2 separate regions of the Homo sapiens genome follow, and region 2 is reported to be linked to region 1. The links are microRNA targets in miRTarBase. Many come from high-throughput screens and were not tested one by one. Region 1 holds a microRNA gene; the other region holds the end of a gene's coding sequence.
Evidence for each region. The annotated mature microRNA hsa-miR-4295 reads CAGUGCAAUGUUUUCCUU and lies in region 1 at 2,065-2,082, shown strand. An mRNA with a match to its seed (bases 2 to 7 or 8) in the 3' UTR can be bound and repressed. Matches are read on the target gene's strand: a 7mer-m8 pairs with bases 2 to 8, a 7mer-A1 pairs with bases 2 to 7 and ends in A, and an 8mer does both.

Region 2: the mRNA of RFX7 is a reported target of hsa-miR-4295. Seed matches in the 3' UTR shown: 7mer-A1 at 2,113-2,119 and 8mer at 742-749.

Annotation. Positions count from the first base shown.
Region 1 is chr10:112,632,116-112,635,312 of GRCh38, forward strand. MIR4295 (microRNA 4295) reads left to right here and starts at 2,055; the gene lies at 2,055-2,139. All of the region lies in intron 5 of VTI1A (vesicle transport through interaction with t-SNAREs 1A), which reads left to right. It overlaps LOC124902503 (a long non-coding RNA gene), which reads left to right. Exons shown (of 2, transcript XR_007062292.1): 2 at 1-3,197.
Region 2 is chr15:56,090,614-56,093,613 of GRCh38, forward strand. RFX7 (regulatory factor X7) reads right to left here. Exons shown (of 10, transcript NM_022841.7): 10 at 1-3,000. The coding sequence ends at 2,732. Among named protein-coding and RNA genes, the nearest start is that of NEDD4, 99 kb to the left of the region's middle.

The DNA of each region.
Region 1 (3,197 bases):
CATTTTGAACCTTTGTTGGGGCATTTTGGTTATCTCAGTGATAACTCAAGGGTAATAAACATCCTGGAATGTATTGCGTAGTCTTTTACAACACTCCCTGATCCTGCACAAACTCTCAAATGTCCTGCTGGTCATTTGTGAAGGTGCACACCCTATTTATAATTATCTGAACGTAGTTTTCCATATGAACACAAAGTATTTTTGTGTGGCTTGAACGTATGTGGAGTTTTCCAAGTATACAATAATTGTGTAAAATCAGGGTTTATTTTAAAAGAGTTCTTTACCATTGAAGGATAGACAGGATTATGCTACAGTAACAAATTAACCTAGAAATTCTGGTGGTTTAACACAACAAAGGTTTCTTTTTTATTTATGCTAAAAGTTGATCAAGCATTGACAGAGGGCTCTGCCCCACTTACTCAAGCATCCAGACTCCACCATGGGGATCGTTGCCAGCCACTGCGGGCAGGGATAGACGGGATTCACATACCAGCTCATCAATATTTTGACCCAAAGTTGAGGTACATCACTTCTGACTATAGTGTACCGGCCAGAAATAGTCATATAGTCCTACCTAACCATAAGGGGGTTAGGGAAGAGGAACAGGTGGAAAGTTGGGTGAGTACAGTGTTCATGGTAATGCGACTTGTAGTATTTGAGCTGTCATTACAGTGCTTGTGGATTGGTTTGCATATGTAGTGTCACATGCATGTTGATTGTACATGCATGTGACAGTTGTATAGGCACAAGCATGTACTTACTTAGTTGTATCTATTAGTATAGTAATGCCTGGGTATTTACAAATAGAAATACTTCTTATTTTGTTGTAAGTTATTTTCCTGTATTTATATTACAGCTAGGGCATTATATTGATTTCTTTTTTAAAAATCCTGTGTGAAATATTTGTTACAAAAAGGTGGTCTGGGCTGGGCGTGGTGGCTCATGCCAGTAATCCCAGCACTTTGGGAGGCTGAGGCGGGCAGATCACGAGGTCAGGAGTTTGAGAGCAGCCTGACCAACATGGTGAGTCCTGAGAGGAGAGGTCTGAAGGAGAGGAGAGGTCTGATGGTGATGAAAGCCACTTTTCTAGGTCTTCGGCATCATCTGGAACACATAGTGGGTCATAGAGAATTACGGGACTTACATAATAATAGTAAGAAGAAGATTAGCTCACATCCTTTGAGTACTCCGCATGTGCCAGGCACTGTGCTAAAACCCTGTAGGTTGATTCTCTGCTTTAAGCATCACCAGAAGCCTGTGAGGAAACCTCCGAATTCTCCATCTTACAGGAGAGAGCTGCTTTTTTCCTTCAAGTATAATGGAAAAGTTGTGGTCCCCAGAATTTCTGTCCTCCCTATGCTAGCACGAAGGGATAATTGATCTTCAGACATTGAAAAGAGATAGCAGGCAAAACACCGGGGCTGGAACAACACAGCAGGATACCCAGGGATCCCAAAAGGAAGTCAAAGAAGAGATTGGAGAAAAGCAGTGGTGAGGAAAAGGGCATTGCCCCCAAAAAGTAATGTCTCCCATGCAGAGAAGACTAGCATTACATAAATGTGTCACTGAGAGAGTTACCTTACCCTGACTCTGTCACCAAATTTTATTAAATGCCTCTCCTATTTCATCCTTGTTGGTGAACTTCCCAGTTCTTCTCTTATTTTATGGGCATAAGAGCTTATACTTTGCAGTTTAGTTAGTTAATTTATTTAAATAGCATTATCAAGTTGGCTCTAGACTAAAAAAAAAAAAAAGTCATGACTCACTCCAGAAAATACCATCAGTTAACAAACGGAAAAAAGGAAAAAGGATCACAGTTAACTCAGAATTATAAAACAATGGTTCTTTTAGGCTTCCTATTTTAGTGGTGTATCCAAACACCTTTTTCCCAGAGTAATAGAGCTTTCTTCCCTTTTGGTTGCAAGCATTATATGAGCAAGATTGGCCACTTTAAAAGTTTTGTTGCATCTTTACTTTCATTACTCAACCTTTATTTCTCCTCAGTCTTTATTCCATAAGAAATATGCTTCAATGGCTTATGCATTTAGAATTGACTTTGTGGAACAGTGCAATGTTTTCCTTGCCTGTGGCAAGACCACTTCGGTTCAAGGCTAAGAAACTAGACTGTTCCTACAGAGACCCTCTGGGTGACTCATCTCTTTTGAGATCCTGATTGTCCATTTTTTGGTTGGTGTTCTGGCAGCAGTGTGTGTTGCCCTGAAGGCACCCTCTCATATGGTGTTGACTACACTATGCTGTGCTATTTAATTCTTGTTTTGGATTGTGCCTCGAGTTTTAAGTCACTTGACAATACAGAAGGTTTCTTTCTCCAAAGATTATCAATATCATACCATTGCCTCTCGGTGGTTATACACACACACACAGACACACACACACATACACACACACACACACACACACACACACACACACGAATTTCATGTTTTCTTCCTTTTGAAACTAAATGTGATCTGTCTGACCTTTCTGAGGAGTCTGCTGCTTTTTCAGATTTATGTCCCTGTGACAAGGTGGTTTGGCAAGCTGTTTGTCTTAATCACTCAGCATCTCCATTAGACAAGCTGTTTAAAAATCTTCTACGTAATTATCTTTTTTGACTCTCACTCTTCCACATTCTTTTCTTTATTGTAAACTTTCTTATGACTTTTTTATATATCTGCCATGTTCTAAAAGGCATTTAAGCCTTCTTACACTGTTTTGTCTGCTTTTCATTAAGTTTGCCATCAATTTACAATCCATGCCCATTGCCTCCTTCACAATCTGAATACATAAACATGCATAATAAATAAACTCTGGGGTTGAATCCTGGACTGAGTGGCCAACATTTTTTCTGTGTCTTCCTTAACTGTTAAAATAGGCAGACAGAGGAGCATTAGAGGAGCTAATTCTAGGAGTCTCCTACGGACATTTGCCGGAGTTTTCACTGCCTTGTTGTTGCCTGTAACTGCAAAGTTCAGAAAGCTGGGGCTGGAGGTGCCTTTATTCATAATATGAGCCAGGCACTGTGCTCATTATTTGGGGGGAATAAAAGATAACACATTTCCTGCCTTCAAGCAGCTTTTACTCTGGTAAAGAGGATAATGCAGGCATGTAAATCTTGTGGAGATGAGACAGCGTGCTGAGGAATTTAAGGAGAAAGATCCCTTTGGTAAAGGCAGATGCAGAATTCATGGCAGATG
Region 2 (3,000 bases), not on the chromosome of region 1:
CTGAAATGCTACCGCAATATTCAACTACTGTAGTTTCAGCAGGTACAACAGACAACAAAACACTGGGGAAATCTGACTTTTTGCACTAAATGAAACATGAAACAGGGCTTGTTTTTGTCATTTATCGTGTAGTAAAGCACATTATAGTACAAGACTATTATATGAACCTCAGAAGCACTGCACAAAAAAACACTTTCCTTCTTTTCAGTTCAAAAGTCAGTGCTTATTGCAATTATATGCAAAATTATTTACTTCATGAAGTTTTATGATAAACAGTATGCAAAATGTTTTAAACATCAAAACAATAAAAATAATCTGGAACAGAACATATTCAACAATAACTAAGCAGAATTAGTAAACATAAAGTAAATAACCTGTGAATAACTATGCTTGCCTGGTTAACACTGAACCAGTTTCAATACAGCGAAGAAAAAAAAGAGTGGTTACAGGAATCCTAGTACTGTACAAGATAAGTCAATAACACTCATGCACATTTTGTGATCATGTATTAACATGGTGAAGCAAACTAAACTTAATTCTTCCTGCTGTAATATTCTCATGTAAGAGAATAATAGAAATATCTCATTGAGATCAATGCACATTGCTACATAAGACAATTTTATCTGTCACTTTGATGACATTTTGTCTTTTCATAATGAAACACATTTAAAAAGTTTAATCTGTGGACTGTATTGGTTGCATTTATCCTAAGAGATGTGCCTACCACAGGTTCAACAAATTTAGTGCAATATATGAACCCCAGAAAGTTTGCTGGACGAATTCAACCAAATTTAAAGAGTTTGCTGCAATACTGTACAAGGGGTTAAAAATCCTCCAGTCTTAATATTTTTATCAAAAAAGATTTCCATTATTTTTATATTAGTAGGAAGCTAATAATGTAAACAAGGGATTAGAATGGCCTCAAAATCTCCTTTTCAGAGTATCTCATAAAGAAAGGCTCCCATCATTTGTCAGGAGAAATCACACAGTTTCCTTTGGGTATTGCATACTTTGGTGTGCAGTAGTGCTGTGTCTCAATGTACAGTGAAGAAATAACTAGCATCAAGAAAAAAATACCTAACAAATCATGAAATCAAGATAACAGCAAACACACACAAATGCCAATAACTAAGACATATCAATATATAAACCTCTGCGCCAACTCTAGCACCATTTATTTATCAAAATATGTTAATACCCTACCTTGCAAATTTATTGAACAACAAAACCTTATTAAACCCTTCAGCACATTTGCTAAATATTCATTGATTGTAGTCTTCTGATTGGCTTACTAAGGTAAAGGAAAGCTTAGCTAGGTTCAAGGTAGCATAGCAAATGGTTTTATGTTAGCTTTAAAAACAATGGCAATTTAAAAATCTCTTTGAAAGTGATCTTGAAACTCACTTAAATGGAGCTTTCAACCAGTGAGTAGGTTTGTGTCAACATGCAACTCATAAATAATTATTCACAAAACAAAATGGGAGCCATAGAGAGAAACATTTTAAAACAAATCCTGAGTTCTTCTTTTGCAATTGTGGTTATCACAATAAATAAATTAAGCAAGTAATAAAATGCTCTTCTTCTTCAAGTACTATTGATATCCCCTTTGTTTCATCAGAGATATAAAGATTTGTGGCTTCAGACCTTAGGTGGTGAAATGTTTTTTGTTGTTTTTTATGTTATCCTCCTTCCTGTTTTTCAAAGGGATCCTATGATCAAACTACATTACTATATTCAGGAGGAGTGAGGGAGTCAGTCACTCAATTGAAGAGGAAAAAAACTGATTATTGTGGAATATTTTAATGAAAAATTTCAAAGTAAATCTCAGTTAGAATCTCAATATGTACATGCAGCCATTGTGATGAAACTAAGAGAATGCTTTTGTTTTCCTTCTCATTCCCCTAACTTAACAAATAATAAGACATAAAGCATTTTTCTAACATGCTTGTATTTATTATATTAAATTACAAATGCCTGGAGTTACATTTGCTTGTTTTGTGTGTGCGTGCCTGCGCATCTATGTGTGCTAGCTCCATATTAAAATCAACATTTAAATATTAATGCAAGGTCACAAATATAAATGGCTACTTGTTTTTTTTCCCTTAAAAATTTTAGTGCAGCTTTGCTTTCCTTAAAGTAATATTTAATTTTCCATTATTTTCTATTTAAGCCCTTCATCGTGGGTGTAAATGGTACTGAAGCCCCAGAAAGTCCTACAGAGATTTTTCACCCTACAGTAGCTCTATGCTTCAAGCCTAAATATTTATAATAACCTGAATATTATCCCTGTTTCAAGGAAGACTTTCTTGTCTACAGTTCACCCTAGCTATGATTTTATATCTAAAAGATAATGCCAACAACAAAACAGCCTATACCTAAAATTGATGGTTTATTCTGAGTTCTGTGCAGATCATCTGATGAAATGAAACTAACTTACACAAAATAAAGATCGACTGCTCTTGTAACAGCTGGATAGTCAATCAATGTGAATAAATGGGGCACATTATAAAATTTAAAACCTAATACTTGTTCTTCTACAGCCTACTGTCTTTAGACACTTGTTAAGAACTGAGGCAAGTCTAACCATTTCCTACTGAAGAAACCACTTCTGCAGCAAACGCTTTTAAAATGTCACAATTAATAGTATTTCTGCTGCGGGAGGCACTTCCATTAAGACAAATACAATACATATGTCTTTAGATACAGTGTGCTACATGTTATAAAACACAATTTAACCCAACATTTCAACAGTAGGATGGTCCTTGCTTTCTATCCATTCAAAACCTGATGAAGTCATAGAATTCATGGATTCACTGCAAATTTGTTGAAATAATGGGTCATTCTTTAATTCTTCCAGTGTAGCTTCATCATCTTGTCCCTGCTGACGACCTGGATCAAACAGTAGATTTGGGTCTAAAGTGTTCAAATCATTGATGCTGCCTGAGAGCTCAGAAGACAACCTGATATCGCTAGAGAAATCAGATGCAGTATTAGTGAGAT